2 separate regions of the Homo sapiens genome follow, and region 2 is linked to region 1. Evidence: fine-mapped expression QTL. Tissue or cell type: whole blood. Region 1 holds a variant in brackets; the other region holds the start of a gene. All regions are shown on one strand. Distances are from middle to middle.

The links. PIP is the estimated chance that this variant, and not a neighbour inherited with it, causes the effect.
Region 2: C5 starts here. The variant in region 1 is fine-mapped to the expression of C5 in whole blood (INTERVAL, PIP 0.98).

Annotation. Positions count from the first base shown.
Region 1 is chr9:121,021,027-121,029,026 of GRCh38, reverse strand. It overlaps C5 (complement C5), which reads left to right. Exons shown (of 41, transcript NM_001735.3): 8 at 1,753-1,867; 9 at 3,447-3,573; 10 at 5,508-5,623; 11 at 7,333-7,518. Among named protein-coding and RNA genes, the nearest start is that of C5, 25 kb to the left of the region's middle. The variant C/T (reference allele first, on the strand shown) is at 3,306.
Region 2 is chr9:121,046,017-121,054,016 of GRCh38, reverse strand. It overlaps C5 (complement C5), which reads left to right and starts at 3,742. Exons shown (of 41, transcript NM_001735.3): 1 at 3,742-3,835; 2 at 7,634-7,826. The coding sequence starts at 3,771. LOC124902261 (a long non-coding RNA gene) reads right to left here and starts at 1,160. Exons shown (of 3, transcript XR_007061753.1): 1 at 912-1,160; 2 at 445-690.

The sequences.
Region 1 (8,000 bases):
AAAAGAAAACAGAGAGTAGCTGATATCAAAATTATCAAGGAAGTAATTTGGCATATAGGAGAGGGCCCTGATTCTAAGTCTTGTGATCTCCCCAAGATCAATTTTTTTCATCTAGCACATAGCTTTATTAATGTGGCTTTATGAGGATGAAATGTAATAGTGCATGAAGGACACTTTATTTATTATTATTATACTTTAAGTTCTAGGGTACATGTACACAACGTGCAGGTTTGTTACATAGGTATACATGTGCCATGTTGGTTTGCTGCACCTATTAACTCATCATACATTAGGTATTTCTCCTAATGCTATCCCTCCCCGTCCCCCACCCCATGACAGGCCCCAGAGTGTGATGTTCCCCGCACTGTGTCCAAGTGTTTTCATTGTTCAGTTCCCACCTGTGAGTGAGAACATGCGGCATTTGGTTTTCTGTCCTTGTGGTAGTTCACTCAGAATGATGGTTTCCAGCTTCATCCATGTCCCTGCAAAGGACATGAACTCATCCTTTTTTATGCCTGCATAGTATTCCATGGTGTATATGTGCCACATTTTCTTAATCCAGTCTATCATTGATGGGCATTTAGGTGGGTTCCAAGTCTTTGCTAGTGTGAATAGTGCTGCAGTAAACATACGTGTGCATGTGTCTTTATAGCAGCATGATTTATAATCCTTTGGGTATATACGCAGTAATGGAATCACTGGGTCAAATTGTATTTCTAGTTCTAGATCCTTAAGGAATTGCCACACTGTCTTCCACAATGGTTGAACTAGTTTACACTCCCACCAACAGTGTAAAAGCGTTCCTATTTCTCCACATCCTCTCCAGCATCTGTTGTTTCCTGACTTTTTAATGATTGCCATTCTAACTGGTGTGAGATGGTATCTCATTGTGGTTTTGATTTGCATTTCTCTGATGACCAGTGATGATGAGCATTTTTTCATGTGTCTGTTAGCTGCATAAATGTCTTCTTTTGAGAAGTATCTGTTCATATCCTTTGCCCACTTTTTGATGGGGTTGTTTGTTTTTTTCTTGTAAATTTGTTTAAGTTCTTTGTAGATTCTGGATATTAGCCCTTTGTCAGATGGGTAGATTGCAAAAATTTTCTCCATTCTGTGGGCTGCCTGTTCACTCTGATGGTAGTTTCTTTTACTGTGCAGAAGCTCTTTAGTTTAATTAGATCCCATTTGTCAATTTTGGCTTTTGTTGCCATTGCTTTTGGTGTTTTAGTCATGAAATCCTTGCCCATGCCTATGTCCTGAATGGTATTGCCTAGGTTTTCTTCTAGCGTTTTTATGGTTTTAGGTCTACCATGTAAGTCTTTAATCCATCTTGAATTAATTTTTGTATAAGATATAAGGAAGGGATCCAGTTTCAGCTTTCTATATATGGCTAGCCAGTTTTCCCATCACCATTTATTAAATTGGGAATCCTTTCCCCATTTCTTGTTTTTGTCAGGTTTGTCAAAGATCAGATGGTTGTAGATGTGTGGTGTTATTTCTGAGGCCTCTGTTCTGTTCCATTGGTCTATATATCTGTTTTGGTACCAGTACCATGCTGTTTTGGTTACTGTAGCCTTGTAGTATAGTTTGAAGTCAGGTAGCATGATGCCTCCAGCTTTGTTCTTTTTGCTTAGGATGAAAGACACTTTAAAGTGCCTCAAGTGCTTTACGTAATTTCAAATTGTTACATTTTATCTGAATCCTGTTATTGTAACCATGTTAGTAAAACAGTTTTATGCTATTGTCTGACAGATATTTTTATAATAAAGTAGTCACTGAGGCTGACGTTTATATCACATTTGGAATAAGAGAAGACTTAAAAGATGATCAAAAAGAAATGATGCAAACAGCAATGCAAAACACAATGGTAAGATGTTAAGACACAGTCACTCACACCTACAGATGCATCCAGAGGTGAGAGATGAGAAGTTACTTAAAAACCATCTAGTCCAATCCCCCATTTTAGATAGGTTGAAACTTAAAATCCTCCATTGGCTTCCCTTTGCCTTTAGGGTAAAGTTCATTTTCCTTGGCATCAGCCTCCCTTACCAGCTGATCTCATGCCCTTTCCTCCCTCCCTCCCCTTTGTATTAATCACTCCAATTTCTCTAACTGACCAAAGTCTCTCTTGCCTCCAGGTCTTTACAATATCATTTATTCTGCTTGAAAATGCTCTTTCCCATTGTCACCTCCTGCCCCTTCTTTGCCTGGCTAATTCCTTCTCATTCTTTAAGTTTCAACATTGACAGCCTTTCTCTGGGAAGCCTCCCCTGACTCTTCTACACTAGGTTAGCTGCCCCGGCTGTATAGCCTCTTTTCTTAACACATTCTTCACATTTCATTGCAGCGGTTCTCAACTAGGGGTGATTTTTTATTCCCAAGGAGACATTTGGCAATGTCCAGAGACATTTGTGGTTGCTACTGGTGTTTACTAGGGAGAGGCCGGGGATGCTGCTAAATTCCTACCATGCACAGGGCAGGCCCCTACAACAAAGAATTATCCTGTTCAAAATGTCAATAATGCTGAGGGGTTGAGAAACCCTTCTTTACTGGAATGGCTTGTTTACTTATCTATCATTTTCAATATTAAACTATTTGTGAGTCTGAATCATTTCCCTTATATGCCCAGAGACAGCATAGTTTCTTGCAAGGAAATATTCATGAAGTTATTTGTCCATAGTTTAGGGCTAATGATTGCTGGAACTGAGATTAGGGCGCTGGTTCCCTTTCCCTTATTCAGCATTCTTTACATTATACCACAGATGATATGAGTTCATGTCATTTTTGCTCACTTTTTCGTATTCATTTGGTTTGCATCATCAATCATTTATCCTCTACAATCTTATTAATTCAAGATGTAAATTAAATGCATTTTTAAAATGCAAAATTCTATGCTAGACACTGGGATGTAAAGCTAAATAAGACAAAAATGCCTGCCCTCAAGTCGCTCAATTTTATAAGAAAAAATAAGGCAAAGTTTATTTTACTGTTGTGTTAATAATTAAATAATATAATATGACTTAACCCCACATCCCTTTACTCATTGTGTGTTTTAAAATTAGTATTTAAATTTGTAAGCAGTGAAGTACAAATTAAATATTATAAAAACCAACAAACTCTCAGTTAAGGGCGGAAGTACGCTGAGAGGCCTATAAAGATGAATGATGACGCAGGAATTGGAAGAAGTCGTGTTTGTCAGCTATTACCAAAAAGACCTGTTGGACCATGTGATGTTCAAGACCCTTCTACTTCTATAATTCTATACAAATAATTAGAAAATAACATCCTGGGCTTAATCGTGGACT[C/T]GGTTATCTACTTTACTTTTGACACTAAACCATTCTTCTGACATTTACCTTCAATTTAGAGGTTAGTAAAAGCAGATTTTATTAATTTTTCCTTATAAGTTCTTCTCCGAAATAACTCCTCCTTTTTCTCCTTTTAAAAAGTTGATAAATGGAATTGCTCAAGTCACATTTGATTCTGAAACAGCAGTCAAAGAACTGTCATACTACAGTTTAGAAGATTTAAACAACAAGTACCTTTATATTGCTGTAACAGTCATAGAGTCTACAGGTAAGTGTGTGTGTGTGTGTGTGTGTGTGTGTGTATACTTTCTTTTGAAAAATATTTAGACAGAATATTAAAGATATAAATAATTTCCAATTTCTATAATTATTTCACATTGTATTTTCTTTCATAGTTAAATATAATTATAAGAAGTAGACTTTTATATAGTTATAAAAAGGCAGTAGGGCTCTGCTTCTTTTTAGTCATTGGACAAGCCATTGGGTCCCTATTACCTCCACTTCTACTGCAAAAATGGGAAAACAGTACCCAATTCATGTCCAAAGTAGTTCTGCAGGCTCTCTGCCTTGACCATTTGGCACCCTAGTGTCCTCACGTGGTGAAAATCAAAACCAAAATAAGATTATGTGTGTAAAACTATTTGATAAAGTACTATACAAATAAAAGTTATTACTATTATCATTATTATAGTCTACATAATGATGGAGTCAAACTGAATGTTTCCTAAAGCCTAAAGTTTTCAACATTATTTTAATGTTTCTTCTTTTTATTTTTTCCTCAACTTATTTTAAATAAGTTCAGTTTAAGCAGTATCTATGAGATATTTAAAGTATTGCCAAACAGACAGGCTTGCAAACATTAATGATGTATGATGCCAGCACTAAAGTGGCTTACAAATTAGCATCAGGTATAAGACAGGTGAAGAAAGAACTGTTGCAAGAAAGAATTCCATATGAGCTCTAAGCAAAATATTAATGCAATAGGATTCAGAGGAAGGTGAGCTTCTAGATGATTGTTGAGCAAGCAAGAACAGTGTTGTGAAGATGATCAGTCTTGAAAAATAATTAGGGTTTTGAGGCAGAGTTGCTAGACAGGGTGAAATAGAAACCCTCCAGAGAGAGGGCAGATGAAGAAGAGTAGATGGTGAAGCTTAATCTTTGAGGACAGCAGATCATCCAGTTTGGCTAAAATATAGGATATGTATAGAATGTATTAGAGATGTAATATTGGAAAGGAGTTTGGGAATATTAAAGCTTCAAATGTTATTCTTAATAGTTTAACTTAATCTTTACCTGGAGGATAACATTATTGGGCTCTTGCCAGTTGTCTGGTCATGTCCCCTTCCCTCCCCCTCCCCCCTCCCGCTCCCCTCCCTCCCCTCCCCCTCCCCTCCCCCTCCCCTCCCCCTCCCCCCTCCCGCTCCCCTCCCCTCCCCCTCCCCTCCCCCTCCCCCCTCCCACTCCCCCCTCCCCCTCCCCCCTCCCCTCCCCTCCCTCCCTCCCCTCCCGAGTCTTGCTCTGTTGCCCAGACTGGAGTGCAGTGGTACAGTCTCAGCTCAATGCAACCTCCGCCTCCTGGGTTCAAGCAATTCTCCTGCCTCAGCCTCCCGAGTAGCTGAGATTACAGGCATATACCACCATGCCTGGCACTTTTTTTGTTTTCGTTTTTTAGTTTTAGTAGGGATGAGGTTTCACCATGTTGGCCCGGCTGGTCTCGAACTCCCTTTCAGGGTTCTTTCTATATCAAGCTCCCTTTTTCTGATTTCTCTCTATGTATCTATGCTCTGTGAACACCAACCCCCATCCCCCACCTCCACTTCTGTAAGGCTCAGTTTCTGGCCTGACCCTTCCCTCTCTCCTCAATCCCTTGAATACAGTCAACTGAAACTCAGGCCACTGATGAAAAGTGGTGTCCCTTCCTGGCATCCTTCCTCAGTCCAGTCCTGTAGCTCTACTTCTCCAAGGGCTTCTCTACATACGAGCTTGTGCATAAGGCCTTGGAAACTCCTGAGGTCTAAACTCTTCTCTGCTGTGCCCCTCTGAAGCAAGACCTATGTCCTACTTACTACTGGTAAATGAATGAATGCAAGAATGGAGTGAGTGAATGAATAAGTCTGTGGAGACATATAGAGATGAAATGGATATCCATACAGATCATGATACTCCTAAAAACTGTCAACATGATGCTTGCCATTTCCTTAGGTGGATTTTCTGAAGAGGCAGAAATACCTGGCATCAAATATGTCCTCTCTCCCTACAAACTGAATTTGGTTGCTACTCCTCTTTTCCTGAAGCCTGGGATTCCATATCCCATCAAGGTAGATTGGGTGAGGGGGTAGACGTTGCTACATATGATCATCTTGTTCTGTTCATGGAAAACATGTGGGTGGCAAACAGGGTAAGAATGTTGCCATGAAGTCACAGAGGGAGCTTATTCTGTGAAACCTGCCCCTCCTGGTGGACACAGACAGGGATGGGAAATTGAAGGTCAGCTGCAGCCTTGGCAATGACTTCAAAAGTGAGGGCAAGATAGCCTTGTATTAGGCATCCCTAAATAAGCATTAAATTACATGTAATAAATAAGCATTAAATTATATGTAAATAAAATCTCATAAGACTCTAGTTCAAAAATACAAACATTTAAAATTATTTGGTGGCAAATTCTTAAAAAGCCTTAAGATGGAGATATCATTCCTTGAAAATAGACTCCTTTCTCTCACTATGTTTTTGCCTCCAGTGTGTCTCATTTGTTTCCCTCTGTCTCTGTGTTGTCTTTGTGCATAACTCTGTTCAATCTCTCGTCTCTGTATTGCTCTCTGTTCTTTTCATTTTTGCTTCTTTCCGTCCCTGAATCTCTTTTTTTCTGTCTTTTTTGCTTACTCCTCTGCATTCATTTTTCTCTCTTTCACCTTCTTTTCCTCCTCTAAATGCTGACAGTATAGAATTGAAACATTCATGTGGTTTTTAGATTTTTATCTATCATTATATATTTTATTACAAATAATATATTTTATTATGTTGATTAAATGGAAATGTTTATTCCCTGCCCTTAATTTAGAAATCCAGAGCAAAATTTTTTTTTGTTCTTTGAAAATGTGTTACTTTTTAAAATCAACTTAAGTACAATCAAAATGTGTTATTTATTATTTACTGTGGGTCATGGGCTTTTAAGAAAAAAAAGGATTTACCAAGCCCAAAGCAAGGTTTGGACATGCTTGTAGGTTCTTACATATATATACTATATATAGAAAATAATATATAACAAAGTATCATATAATGCATATACAGTAATATATAATATATATACTAAAATATGTAAATATAGCAATATTATATAGAACATAAGCTTAAAATATGTTTATATAAAAGTAAAATAACAAACTATATCTGTGTGGAATTGTGTGTGTATATATATATATATATGGCAGTGAGAGGTAGATGTTAAAGGAAAAAAGGTGTATCTATTTTTGTTTCTCATATTCAAGGGACTTATTCCCAGAAGCGATTGCCTCATTTTCTCCTTTATCCAGTCCTAAACCAATCAAAGAAATACAGAAGTTAGATAGCAGAAGACCTTATCACACCTACTCCTTGACTGACTTAATAGAATGATATTTATGTTTTGAGTTTGCTTGATTTATGGGAGAATCTATTCAAGAATGATTTAACTAAATAGAATTAAATCTTTCTATAAGCTGAGAATACACTTCTCTTTACTAAATTAAACATAAGTAAACCAGGTGTGGTGGAGCATGCCTAAATAGTTCCAGCTACTTGGGAGGCTGAGGTGGGAGGATGGCTTGAGGCCAATAGTTCAAGGTTGCAGTGCGCTATGATTGTGCCTGTGAATAGCCACTGCACTCCAACCTGGGCAACGTAGTAAGTCTCTGTCTCAGAAAAAAAATTTTCAGAAAAAAATACATAAATAATTTATACTTTGGTGGGGAGGAAGGAAAATTATTTCAGAATTGTGCTTTAAAATAAGTGATGAGCTGTTGAAATAGATTTGGATTGTTTTGACAAACAGGTGCAGGTTAAAGATTCGCTTGACCAGTTGGTAGGAGGAGTCCCAGTAACACTGAATGCACAAACAATTGATGTAAACCAAGAGACATCTGACTTGGATCCAAGCAAAAGTGTAACACGTGTTGATGATGGAGTAGCTTCCTTTGTGCTTAATCTCCCATCTGGAGTGACGGTGCTGGAGTTTAATGTGAGCTGAATTCTCCTGTTGTATTTTCTAGGACAATGTGTACTCTTGACCATGTGTTTTGGCTAGTGTGCAGAACAGATGCGGCAGATTTTACACATGAGTCCAGTGAACAGTTCCATAATTTTGCATCCAAGACAAATTAGTCCCAGAGACAATCTGCTAATCCATTGAATGGTCCTTGAGGAAGATAAATGTATCAATTTTTTATTTGGGAGTTAATTGTTTTATCTTACACCGTTAAGACCATATCAGACTCTAGAAGCTTCAGAATAGGTATAGCAGTGCACATGAGTGTTAGGAATATCCTCTCTTCCCCCCTCACTTTTAATCCCCTGAAGGGCCACAAAAGGGTCAAAAATATGGAAGCCTCCCTTTTTTCTAACTACAGAAACCATTCTACTTTAGAGCCCACTTAATAGTCTTCTCTCGCAGCAAATATTATTTAAGTTCCCAATCTCAAATAAAATATGAGCAATAACATA
Region 2 (8,000 bases), 25 kb before region 1:
TTGGGGGTGCTTAGCATTTTATGTTTAGTCTACACACTTTAGTCCTTGTGTCCTGACTGCCACTCAAATAGACTCAGGACCTCAGACCACTTTAGTTAGCCAGTGGTGAAGCTAGCCATGACCTGGGTTTCTCCCTCTGGAGCACAGAATTCTCCTCTGTCCCAAGGCCTGCCTAAATGCACTGTCAGAATTCTAGGCGCCTGCAGAATTCTGTCCTGTGTTATGTTCCACCATGACGGGGCAGCACTGACTTCCAGTGCAAAGTCCCACACTCACTTTGCTCTCTCTCCTCCAAGCACACGGATTCTCTTTCCTGCTGTGCAGCCTGTGGTTGGAGGAGGGGTGGTATAGGCAATACAGGGAGATCTTCCCCCCTACCCCCACCCTATCTTCAATGCCTCTTTCCTTATCATTACGGTAAAAGTAGGCACTGTGATCACTCACCTGATTTTATGGCTTTTATGAAGGTGCTGTCTTGCGTGGATAGTTGTTCTATTTGGTGTTCCTGTGTGGAGAACTATCTCGGGGGGGGTTCTATTCAGCCATCTTGCTCCACCTCCGCCCTCTCTCCAGTCAGTCTTTAAACTGCTGGCACCGAAGCCTCCAGTGCCTTTCTCCTCTATATCCCATGGAGAGTTACTGAAGTAGTTCTTTTTGGATTTCAGTTGGCCTTTTAGTAGAGCCTTTCTCCTAAAGGATTAAAACGTGAGACTGCGGGCTTGAGCCAAAAAGCAGTCAGAGGGACAAATACTGGGTTTTACTTAGAATAACCCACCTGCCTAGTGCCAGCCTACCACTCTTGAACAAAACTTGTATGATTCCCGTGTCTCCATTTAGAATAATTTAATTCTGAGGAGACGCCTCTGTTTCTCCACTGGCCTCTGGACATGGAACAGGCACATGAAAATTACCTGGGGCAGCTATGGGTCACATCACCTCTCTTACTCTAGCCAGCCAGCAGGCACTTGAAGTTCGCAATCTGATGGGCTGAATTTCTGAAAACAATAACAAACACAATGTCACTTATTTTTTATTCTCTAAATTTACAACCCATTAATATACCTCCCTGTAAGCTGTCTGATTTTGAAAATTATACATGATAAAATCTTTTTATTATACATAAAAAAGAGTTCTGTAGTTTGTATTAATAGAAAATTGGTGTCCAGACATATTTTACCAAGTAAGTACAAAATAACTAAAGAATATCCATTTGAAAGATACAAAATTATTATCCTGCTAGGAGCACCTTGGTGTCAAGGTGACTTCAGGGAATAATCAGGTAATTCAGCTCCTTGGCCGGAGTGAAGAATGGAATGTTGAGGCTGGAGAACTAAGCAGGGCTCAAGAGGGGCCTGGTGCACTAGGCTAGGTCATTTGGGCTCAATCATGAGGGGACAATTGAGGCAGCATTAGCAGGAAGGTCAGGTGACCACCAAACTTTCTGCCAGATCTGAGTTTCTTCTCTTTTAGAAATGCAGTATTTGTATAAAAATGAAAGGCTTACCAAAGGTCACATTTTAAATTATAAAGAAAAAAAATCATCTTTTTTTTTTTTTTTTTTTTCTGAGATGGAGTCTGGCTCTGTTGCTCAGGCTGGAGTGCGGTGGCGTGATCTGTGCTCAACCTCCACCTCCCAGGTTCAAGTGAATCTCCTGCCTCAGCCTCCCAAGTAGCTGGGATTACAGGCACCCGCCACCACGCCTGGCTAATTTTTGTATTTTTAGTAGAGGCGGGTTTTCGCCATGTTGGCCAGGCTGGTCTTGAACTCTTGACCTCAGGTGATCCACCCACCTCGGCCTCCCAAAGATCTGGGATTACAGGTGTGAGCCAGCGTGCCCAGCCTCAAAAGTTCATCTGTGAGCCACATTTAGAAGGTAGATAAAAAATTTTGACTAAACACAGCTTAGAATCTATAAATTGTTAAACTTCAGTTCTGTTGAGAATCTTTGAGATCCATCATTCTCTAAATGTTTTCTACCAGAGAAACAGGACAATGGCTTGCAAATATTGGTTATCAGTATTTACTCTATAGCTCAAGCAAACAAACTTATTTGCACTTAAAATACAAATATTACCTACCTTGATTTGAGTGTTGTTGTTCTCTCTTAAATTTCATTTCCCAAAAATGATGGCAAAAGTACTGTTTGTTTTAACTTGACCCATCTTTTGCAACCCAGCTTAATCATTTCACAGATTCCCTTTTGAAATAAATGGGCTAGATGATCAGACAATAGTGGCAAATGTTTGTCATTTCAATGACATATGCAAGAGATACCTTTAGTGAAATTTGTATATCAAATTTCCCTTTGTGCTCCTTTTTTCCCTAGTGAATTCAGCATTAAAGTGTTTATAAATATTTTTGGTTTATTATTTATTAATTCAAAGCAAAGAATGCCAATGTGACCATAAATATCTCATTTATATATCATAAATATCTCATTATAGAAATATGTTTAGAGACATCTGTTTTATTATTTTAAAGAAGAGTACATATTATATATTAAGGTAAAAATAGTACTAAAAAAGAGAAGGTAGTAAATAAAAAAATTCTAATGAACATAAAACATCATAAAAATTAACTTAATTAAAAATCAGCCAGGCACAGTGGCTCATGCCTGTAATCCCAGTACTTTGGGAGGCCAAGGTGGGTGGATCACCTGAGGTCAGGAGTTCGAGACCAGCCTGGCCAACACGGTGAAACCCTACCTCTACTAAAAATACAAAAAATTAGCTGGATGTGATGGGACATGCCTGTAGTCCCAGCTACTTGGGAGGCTGAGGCAGGAGAATGCCTTGAACCTGGGAGGCAGAGGTTGCCCTGAGCCAAGATAGTGCCACTAGACTCCAGCCTGGGCGACAGAAAGAGACTCTGTCTCCAAAAAAAAAAAAAAAAGTATAAAGATAAAATTTTAGTATATTGTGAATTAATTACTAGACTCAATTGTTATAGGAAGCTTTGTTTTTCTGGAGCTCTTATATTAAAATTATTAAAATCCTCACTGAAAAGTATAACATGTGTTTTCTTTAAAAGAAAGATATTCTATATCTGAATAAAGACAAACTTTGAACGAGTGGTATATGCCTTAATAAATATTGGAGAATATCTATTCTCCAATACTTAGAGAATGACGACAGCATCCTCCACATGGCGTTTTCATTGCCAGTCACAACTTTCCTCCACCTAGTGTTCTCTAGACTGAGACAGACCAAGGAACAATTCCCTAGACCTCCTTTGCAGAGCTAGGTTATGCTCAGACCATTTGCAGCACCAAGGACACTGCCATTCAGGTCACCAAAAAAAGATCATCTTGTGAGCCCTGTCTAAACCAGGCCCCTTCTAAAATCATTTCAGTGTGAAACTGAGTCCAGGTGGGTCTTCATCAGTATTAGAGTGGACCTGCCAGATGTATGCTTGCAGATGATGCAACATCAAAGCAAATGCCCTGGGCAAGAGAAGAAAGGCCAAAGCAATGGGCTTACTGGTTTCTAGCTTTGAGCCACTCTTCATAGTGCCAAATTCCCATTTTAGGGTCCCTTTATTTGTATTAATAAAAATAAATTCCCTGGGTGTAAGTTCCTGTAAAGTACTCCCTATCTGTATTCCTGGGCATGAAAGGGTGTTTTAGTTCCAATTCTAGTTTTCCCACTTAGAGGTTCACCTTTCTGACATTAATAATTAACCAGATTATCTGAATTCTTCAAGTTCAGTTTATTTAAAAGGAGACTATCCTCAAAAGTGTTATATCCGTGGTTTCCTGCTACCTCCAACCATGGGCCTTTTGGGAATACTTTGTTTTTTAATCTTCCTGGGGAAAACCTGGGGACAGGAGCAAACGTAAGTAAAACAAGCTATCTTCATTTTTCAATGCATCTTAGTTATGACGAATGAAGAGTTAAATTTAACAGATTCTGTTAACTTGAAAATAACTTGCTACTTCTGAGAACAGCAAGTGAATAGTATCATCTCTGAATGAGAAAGTCATGGAAGCATTTTGATTTGATGAGTAGCTAACAACATGACAGCTTTTATGGAATTGTTATTTATTAAAATTTACGTTAAGTGATTATTCAAATTCCTCTTCAAAAAAGCACAAAAGAAACTCCAGATAATAAACTTTCTTGACATTTTTTGCTTATTTTAACTTGGTGTTTAGTTTTCTTTGTGTTTTTCATAGACTATACACAGTTAAACCAGGGTTATTTAGGAGTCAATCTAATACTGTGATCTGAAAATCTGTTGTTGTAGTGACTTCTACCATACATTTATGAGCTGACTTTTCACAATTTTTAGTGTCATTATTGAGATAATATGCATTTTAAGTAATGTTTTAAAAATAATGATCTTATATCTAGAAATATTTTAATACTGAAAAGTAACTGCAGATCATCTAATCAAACCTATTCATTTTATATATGAGAATAAGTCCAGATAAGGGAAGTGACTGACCAAAGGTCACAGTTCTAGAGAGAGAGAAACAGGATTTTTATTAAGGTCTCCTGTTTATCACTTCAATTTTTTTCATTTTGTCATAAATGTATACATGTAAATATATTATATATAAACACATACTTAGGATGTCATTCTTTTTTAGCACCCTCGTATTTCTGATCTGTGATCTTTTTACATGGCCACAAGCACTCAACTACCTTAGCATCCTGCCTTTATTCTTTTTGAAAGACGAGCAGCTAAGGCTTAGAGAGACTGAAATTAAGTGACTTCAAATTGGTGGCAGAACTAGGGCTAGGACCTGGGTTCCATGATTCTTGTCCAGACTTATTCTGAATTCTTTCTACTAGCCCTTAATAAAAATTATTTCCTCACTTTCTCTGAAGAAGTCAGAGTGTACCATTTACAACATGGCAATCAATCACTTTAATTAATTGGTTGATTGATTGATTCAACAAATATTTATTGAGCATCTAAACATATGATAGGCACTGCAGATATAGCAAACGGTAAGACAATTCCTAGAGCTTGCATTCTAGTGGGAGAAGCAAGTAATGAATGAATGAACCAATGAAAGAATGTGTAAGGTCAGGTAGGTAGTATTATGAAGAAAAAAATAAAGCAGAGTATGAGAATTAAAAAATAATTATGGGGCACTATTTTAAAATGTGGCCAGGAAAGGTTCTCTTAAGGAGGCTGCACTCAAACAGAGCCTGAAGGAAGTGAGGAAGCAAACCATGCAAATATTTGAGGAAAGAGCATTCCAGATAGAGGCCAAAATAACATTCTTGCCTCTCTGCAAGCTCCTGCTCCTCTGCAGCAATTGAAAGACAAAGAAAACTATGAAATTATTTATATGGATAGATTATGCTACTGATAAGTCAATAAGAACCAAAATCTTTATAAAGGGTGGTTCCAGAATATTCTTTTAGGGGCTTCTAAACACTATGTATTTTTGCTTGACGGCTACCATCACATAGACCAGCAGTCCCCAACCATTTTGGCACTAGGGACAGGTTTTGTGGAAGACAATGTTTCCATGGACCAGGATTGGGGTGGGGATGGTTTCAGAATGAAACTGTTCCACTTCAGATCATCAGGCATTATATTCTCATAAGGAGCTTGCAATCTAGATCCCTCGCATGTGCGGTTCACAATAGAGTTCATGCTCCTAGGAGAATCTAATGCCACCACTGATCTGACAGGAGGCAGAGCTCAGGTGGTAATGCTCCTTTGCCCCACTGCTCACCTCCTGCTGTGTAGCCTGGTTCCTAACAAGCCATGGACTGGTATTTGTCCATGGCCCAGGGGTTGGGGACCCCTACCATACACAATTCAAAATTAAAGCAATACTAAACTTAAAAACATAAAGCTTCTATAAATACTGAAATTAAAGTAGCTTTATATCCCTAAATTTTTCTAATTACAAAACTCTTTATAAATTCCATTTAGTACAACAGTTGAAAATGTTAATTCTGGAAACGGGCTGCTCAGGTTCGATTTCTAATTCTATAATTTGTGAATTATAGAATTCATAAATCCTATATGTGTGGCCTTGGGAAAATTAATTAGCAGTTTCTTCACCTTAAAATTGGAGTAATAGTTCCTCACAGAGTGGTTGTAATGACACAATGAGTTTATACAAATAAAGTATTCAGAATAGTGCCTTATCACAGGGCAAAATTTCAGTAAATATATCTTATTATCATAAAAACTGAACTCCTCTCATTTTCTGCCATCTCCTACTAGGCATGTGGGGAAGGGGAATTCAGATGATGGTTGGAAATCTGGAAATTCTTTCCTCTCTTTTGTAATTTGCCTGTAAGTGGATCCAAATTAATTGTAATGCAGGATAACTGTCAGATGCTTTAAAGGATTTAATTGCTGATAAATTAATTCCATTGTTACTAAAAACTTCCTGCTTTTACCAGACTCTTAAAATGTCACAATGTTGGCAGAAGCCTGGAATAATTCTGCCAGGTGGGGTGGTGGGTGCCCTCCAAGCTTGTTGGGCCACTTGAATTAGTCGATCACTATGCCCTTTTGGGTTAAAACACTTTTTTTTCCTATGTAATAGCGTATGTAGTTCTCGCTATTCAAATTAGATACTCTTGTGATATACACTTAGTAATCCAGTTTATATTTGTAAGTTTTTAAATAAAATAATTTTTAAAAATCACTCAAAAGCATGTATAGACTCACTTCCATTATTGTATAAATCACATGAAAAGTAAAAATAAGAGAACAGTCTATGGTTGTGAATAACATATAAACTTGACCTCAACTGTACACATAACAACTGAGAACTCATATAAAGGCCTCCCCCATTTACTTACAAACCGTATAACCTTAGCCAAGTTAGCCTTTTACCACTTGCAAAGTACGAATAATGATAGTACCAGCATCATTGGCTTATTGTAAAAATTAACAAGAGCTGTATGTAAAGTGCTGATACAGCCTCTGATATGTGGCAAGTACTTAATTACCATTATTGTTTGAAGATGATGATTTGCTCTTAAAGGACCATCATCACTATTTCCATTTCCAAATGCACTTCCCAGCTCACTCATATTCTATCCTTTCCGTTATCCGTTTACTAGTATAACATAGTATTTCTAAGATCACTCCCTTTAAACTAATTTAGTGAGATTAATAAATCTTAACATGTATTGAGTACTAAGAGTGCTAGACCTTTTCATATATATGTTCTTATTTAATCTTTACCAGAGCCTGGTAAAGAAGGCGATTATTTTCACAGTAAGTTATTTTAGCCTCAGAAAGACTTAGTGACTTTACCACGGTCACTCAGCCAGCAGATGCCACAGCTGGAATTCAATCACTGCTTTTTTCTTCATTGAGCAAAAAATATTGACCCCATTTACATGTTCTGGTCAACATGATTAAAAGTCTTCCTTGGCTGCAGTAGCTAAGAGAAAGTGCTGCTATCACCTTAACTTTCTAAATGTAAACTAAACCTCCAGCTTCTCAGGTCTTAATTCCAAACTACTTGGAAATTATGCTGAAGTTATGGTGGGTCACAAGTACATTTTGACTTATTAGTATCATTTTTAAGTGAGGAAATATATGTATTTTAAATGGAATCTCTCAAGTGAGAGAAAAAAATCAAAAGTAAAAGAAAATATGTCATATAAAGACATTGAGCCTTATCTTTTCCTTTTTCAACAGATATGTCATTTCAGCACCAAAAATATTCCGTGTTGGAGCATCTGAAAATATTGTGATTCAAGTTTATGGATACACTGAAGCATTTGATGCAACAATCTCTATTAAAAGTTATCCTGATAAAAAATTTAGTTACTCCTCAGGCCATGTTCATTTATCCTCAGAGAATAAATTCCAAAACTCTGCAATCTTAACAGTATGTATTTATCCTTTATTTTCTTTATATATATATACAGAATATTCTCAATAAAAATGTGTACAAAGTTTGAATATTGATAACATATAGATTTAATCATTTACATCCACTGTGGGATTATTAGATGATGTCAGTCACTAATGATAATGTAAGTGAAAATTCTAACAGAAACAG